Regions from separate parts of the Homo sapiens genome. Here region 1 is linked to region 2. Evidence: fine-mapped expression QTL. A gene starts in region 2. The other region holds a variant in brackets. All regions are shown on one strand. Distances are from middle to middle.

Evidence for each region. PIP is the estimated chance that this variant, and not a neighbour inherited with it, causes the effect.
Region 1: its variant is the best candidate, but not a certain one, in a credible set for the expression of SLCO1B1 in iPS cells (PhLiPS, PIP 0.66).

Annotation. Positions count from the first base shown.
Region 1 is chr12:21,220,551-21,223,487 of GRCh38, reverse strand. SLCO1B1 (solute carrier organic anion transporter family member 1B1) reads right to left here. Exons shown (of 15, transcript NM_006446.5): 13 at 1,124-1,188. Among named protein-coding and RNA genes, the nearest start is that of SLCO1B1, 91 kb to the right of the region's middle. The variant C/G (reference allele first, on the strand shown) is at 1,359.
Region 2 is chr12:21,129,638-21,132,574 of GRCh38, reverse strand. SLCO1B1 (solute carrier organic anion transporter family member 1B1) reads right to left here and starts at 1,381. Exons shown (of 15, transcript NM_006446.5): 1 at 1,339-1,381.

The sequences.
Region 1 (2,937 bases), 91 kb before region 2:
TTCCCCACATAATGCCACTGATTTGAACAAACGTAATGGATTGTTTTAAGTAATAAACTTTGTCCTAATCACTACAATTTTAAAACTCATAACCTATTTTCTAAATGACTTTTTCAGGTAAATATATAGGCCTTCCACAATTTACACGTTTATTGTATTCAAGACAATTGTTTATGAATTGAAAGTTTTGTACTAAATGTGTATTTTTTCCATAGGTGCATTTAGGTTCCATCGTGCCACAGATTGGATACATCGAAATAGGATACTCAGAATTAGAATGGTGAAACTCATTTTTTTTCCTATTTTCTATTGCTAAAAAAAATTTTACTCCATTCTCATAGTCTCATTTCTACATATGAGAAGGAGTACTAACAACCCAGATGTTACTTTAAGCTTTTGTCACCCAGGTTCTAGCAGAGAGGTATCTCCATTGAAACTGAAGGTAGAAACCTGCCAGAATGTACAGAGTCTGGGAGATTAGAGACACACAAAACGGAACGGAGGGAAGAAAACCAACAGAATACTATAGCATCTCATTTCCTCTCTTCTATTCCCTTTATATTTCTTCTTTTTTAACTTTGAGGATTTGTGACTTTATCATCAAATACGCTTCTTAGACAATTTCTTCATTGTAATTTGGCCATAGCCTGGCCAGATTCTCTGACCAGATTCCCACGCTTCCCAAGCTAGCTTTAGGCCTTGCCTAAATCATGCCACAGTTTAGAAGTTAGGCCCTTCACTCTGCCTACTGGGAGGAAATATTCTTATTTTTCTGAAAAAAAAGAAAAATTTGGAGGACCATCTATCTTTGTGTTTGAAAGAGTGTAATACAAATACAATAATTCCTTAGTCTTAACAGATTGACTTTATGTATAATTAACAATCGAATTCTCCTTTAGGTCCATCACTCAATTTTACTCTGTCTCTTATTGTTTTTATTTATCACAGAAATAGAAAGGATACTAATTTTATTTACTATCATAATTAAAGATTCATTACAGTCTTTAATCCTTGACATTAATATTTATAACTTAAATTTAATATATGTATGTGTGTGTGTATATATATATATATATATATATATATATATTTTTTTTTTTTTTTTTTTTTTTTTTCATCATACCTAGTGCTCGTATAACCATTGAGTGGAAACCCAGTGCAAGTGATTTCAATTCAGGTTGAACAATTCTGAAACAAGACAAAGGCAAAGAAACATTAAATATCATTAAAATATCAAAACGAAACAACATTAAACCTTCTCCTGTGTTGTTTTTCTCCATGATAGAATTAAGCTCACAGTTGAATGGCCCCATTATATAAAATTATATTTTAATTGTTTTAAAAGGCAAACACTTGAG[C/G]AATAATAATAATTATTCCCTTATTTATTCAATGCATCATGATTTCAAGATGGCTTAAAATATTTTCTCATATGGTACTTATGAAAATCCTATGAGGAAGTGGTTAGAACAGACTTTATTATGCCTCTGAAGATACTGATTTTTTGTGGTCTAGTCAGTGTTATAATAAGTGTGAAAGAGCATGAGTCTTTTTCATAAAATGATTTACTTTCCTTTTGGTAGATATCCAATAGTTGGATTGCTGGGTCAAATGGTACTTCTATTTTCAGATACTTGAAAAATCTCCACATTGTTTTTCATAAAGGTTGTACTAATTTATATTCTCAACAGTATATAAGCATTCCTTTTCCTCAACATTCTTACCAGTATCTTGCTTTTTGACTTTTTAGTAATGGCCGTTCTGACTGGTATAAAATGGAATCTCACTGTAGCTTTAATTTTCATTTCTCTGATGATTAGTGATATTGAGCATTTTGTCATATGTTTGTTGTTTGTTGACTGTTTGTCTTTTGAAACATGCTGGTCGTATCATTTACCCTATTTTTAATAATTTTTTTCTTGATGAGTTTTTTTGTATTTCTTATAGATTAAGGATATTAGCCCTTTGTCAGATGTATTGTTTGTAAATATTTTTTCCCTTCCTGTAGGTTGTCTGTTTACTCTGTTGATTATTTCCATTGCTGTGCAGGAAATTTTTAGTTTAAGTCCCATTAGTCTATTTTTGTTGTTATTGTTGCATATCATCAGTGAACAGAGTTTATTTGAGTTCCTCTTTTCTAATTTGGATACCTTTTCTTTCTTTCTATTGCCTGATTGCTCTAGCTAGGACTTCCCATACTATGTGCAGTAAGAGTAGTGAAAATAGACACACTTGTCTTGTTTCAGGTCTCAGGAGAATGCTTTCAACTTTTTTCCTTTCAGTATGAAGTTGGCAGTGGGTTTGTCATACATAGCTTTTATTATTTTGAGGTATGTTCCTTTGATGCCCAGATTGTTGAGGATTTTTGTCATGAAAGATGTTAAATTTTATCAAATAATTTTTCTGCATCTATTGAGATGATCATATGGTTTTTGTTTTTAATTTTGTCTTATCAAATGGTTTTGGTTTTTAGTTTATTCTATGTGGCAAATCACATTTATTGATTTATATATGTTGAACCAACCCTTCATCCCTAGAATAAAAACAACTTGATCATGTTATAAAATTTTTCTTATGTGCCATCGGATTTGATTTGCTAGTGTTTTATTGATAATTTTTTCATATGTTCATCAGGGATATTGGTTTGTGGTTTTCTTTTCTTTTTTTTTTTTTTTAGACCAGTCTTGCTCTGTCTCCCAGGCTGGAGTGCAGTGGAGCGATCTTGGCTCACTGCAGCCTCCGCCTCCCAGGTTCAACTCCTGTGAACTCTCAGCAGCCCTTGACACAGTTACTTATGCTCTTTTTGACATATGCTTTATTAGTTTGAGGACAACGCTCTTTCCTAGTTTTTCTCATGAAACCTCCTCAGTTTTCTTTATTGGTTTCTCCTATTAGTGATCTTTAAATTAGAGTGATTGAGAACTGATCCTAGGATCTTGT
Region 2 (2,937 bases):
GAAATGCAAATCAAAACCACAATGAGATACTATCTCACACCAGTTAGAATAGCGATCATTAAAAAGTCAGGAAACAACAGGTGCTGGAGAGGATGTGGAGAAATAGGAACACTTTTACACTGTTGGTGGGACTGTAAACTAGTTCAACCATTGTGGAAGACAGTGTGGCGATTCCTCAGGGATCTAGAACTGGAAATACCATTTGACCCAGCCATCCCATAAGTGGATATATACCCAAGGGATTATAAATCATGCTGCTATAAAGACACATGCACACGTATGTTTATAGCGGCACTATTCACAGTAGCAAAGACTTGGAACCAACCTAAATGTCCAACAACGATAGAGTGGATTAAGAAAATGTGGCACACATACACCATGGAATACTATGCAGCCATAAAAATGATGAGTTTATGTCCTTTGTAGGGACATGGATGAAACTGGAAACCATCATTCTCAACAAACTATCGCAAGGACAAAAAACCAAACACCGCATGTTCTCACTCATAGGTGGGAACTGAACAATGAGAACACATGGACACAGGAAAGGGAACATCACACACCGGGGACTGTTGTGGGGTGGGGGAGAGGGGAGGGATAGCATTAGGAGATATGCCCAATGTTAAATGATGAGTTAATGGGTGCAGCACACCAACATGGCACATGTATACATATGTAACAAACCTGCATGTTGTGCACATGTACCCTAAAACTTAAAGTATAATAATAATGAAATAAAAAAAGAAAAAAACTGTACTGAGAAGACTTTTTGCTTATTTAATTGGAGATAAATTATCTAGAAAATATATTTCCCTTCACCCTGTATCAAACTTGAGTTGAAACAAGGAAACTGAGGTGGTTATGTGACTTTGAGACACCTGTTTTTTATGTTTGCCAATTAACTCTTCCCTCTACTCCCACCCTTGGCTGCCTTCATCCAGTTAAGAAGACATCAAAGAAATAAGGAGTCTAGTGTGATCAGTCAATGTAGTTGACAAAAATAATTATCCTGTAGCATATTTTAAGAAGGTAACTAGAGCTTCATTTTTGAGACTTGATTTTTATTTGTTTGGAAATTAATAAGACCAAGATTTGAAACTTTATATTTAAATATATAAAGGTATTATTTTCTCTACTTTATTTTTAACAGTATATAAACCTGAGGCTCTTCTACTCCCAGAAGGAATATTTACTATGTTTTAAGGGCTCAGAATGTAAGCGTGTGGAAGACACAGAGCATAAAATTCGTAATATTTTTCAAGACCATCAAAATCTTCTTCCGTGAAAATTTCTTACATAAAATATATGTAAAAATTAGAGAATCTCAATGGTTCTTACCTGGATTTAGAATCCTACAGCAACTGCAACAAGTCCACCCTTTATTCCTCTTAAAGTAGTTGGCTTTTTGAAAACAAGTCCAGTGATGATTAACCACCTTATTATGTCATTGCTCTAGTCAAACATATAAAACCTAGTTAGTTTTAAGAGTTCACTCCAGTTGCCAATATTTAAAGATTATATTTCTCAGAATTCTCACATTATTTTTTGTTAATCTTAACAAGTAAACCTTACTTTTGGGAATGGCTTTTACTTGTTTATTCAATTAAGTTGGTGGCATAAGATTTTTTTCTTTAAAAATATGAGTACAATAAATTATTCCAGGTATTTAAAACTTCCAAATAGGAAATAATTTAAGACAAATAAAAAATATGCCTACAGGTTACATTGGCATTTAAAAATTAAAATATACCCTCTTTGCTTGGTACATAAGTATGGTTCTAACGTGGTATGTATGGAGACTGGAGATACCACCTGGAATAAGAGAGTCCCAATTAACTGCAAGACCATTTTTCTGAATGATGAAAATTAAGACTGCTTTATGCGATAGATTCTTTACATCAAAACAGGAAAGAATTATTAATATCACAGTTTCCTTTTATTGACTTGACTTGTGGAGAAAGGAAGAGCTTAACTCAGTTAAAAGTTTTCTTGAGTAGAGATGAAGTTTAATTAATTCAATAACTCAAACATTTTAGACTCTCAATTATACCTTGGACATTAAGCTCTCTTCTGAAATAAAGTACAGACCCTTCTCTCACATAAATATATATATTTCAGAAAAGTGTGAAGATATATGTATGTATATACACACAAACATACATGTATACATATATACACACTTTTACCTGTATACACATATGCACATATATATATGTGGTAATGTGAGGATGCATATATGAGAATATGGTTACCCCTTATCATTCATGGGACATTTGTTGATATGGTTGCAGCAAAATGTATTTGATGTCTGTGCCACAGTTATCTGATTGATTAGTTCTATTCTTGGTTAATTATTGAGAGTATTGGAATCATGAGACAAACTAAAGAGTAGTGTAGAGGGGAAGAATGACTGTGCAGAACTGAGAAATGTAGACCCAAGGCCAAAATATTAGAGTAAGGCTTCCAAATACTCTGCTGAGTAAGAATCTACTGGCGAGTTGTCAAAATAGCAATCCAGTCCCATACCCAGCAGATTCTGGCTCAGGAGACCAAAGATTATGCCTGTTAAATAAGCACTTTGAAAAATTTTCATGTACTGCCAGATTTTGATATCATAACAGGAATGCAGAACATTTTCCATCATTTTTATGGACTTCCTTTTATTCACAATGGGAATACAGTTTGGGTTTTCTCAGGCTAATGGTTTTCTCCTCAGACATCCATTTCATTGAAAACACATCAACATGTTTGGAGACTAATATATATATTATATACAATGAAGATAAAACAGTACAAACTAACTAACAACCTTTATAATCCTGAGCTAAAGGTGCCAGTTGTAAAATTCTCCAATATTTTCAGAGGTCAAAGAGCATTCTCTGTGCCCCTTTTCTCTTCCTAATTGTGTAAATAATTAGACTGCTCATTTTGTGGGAT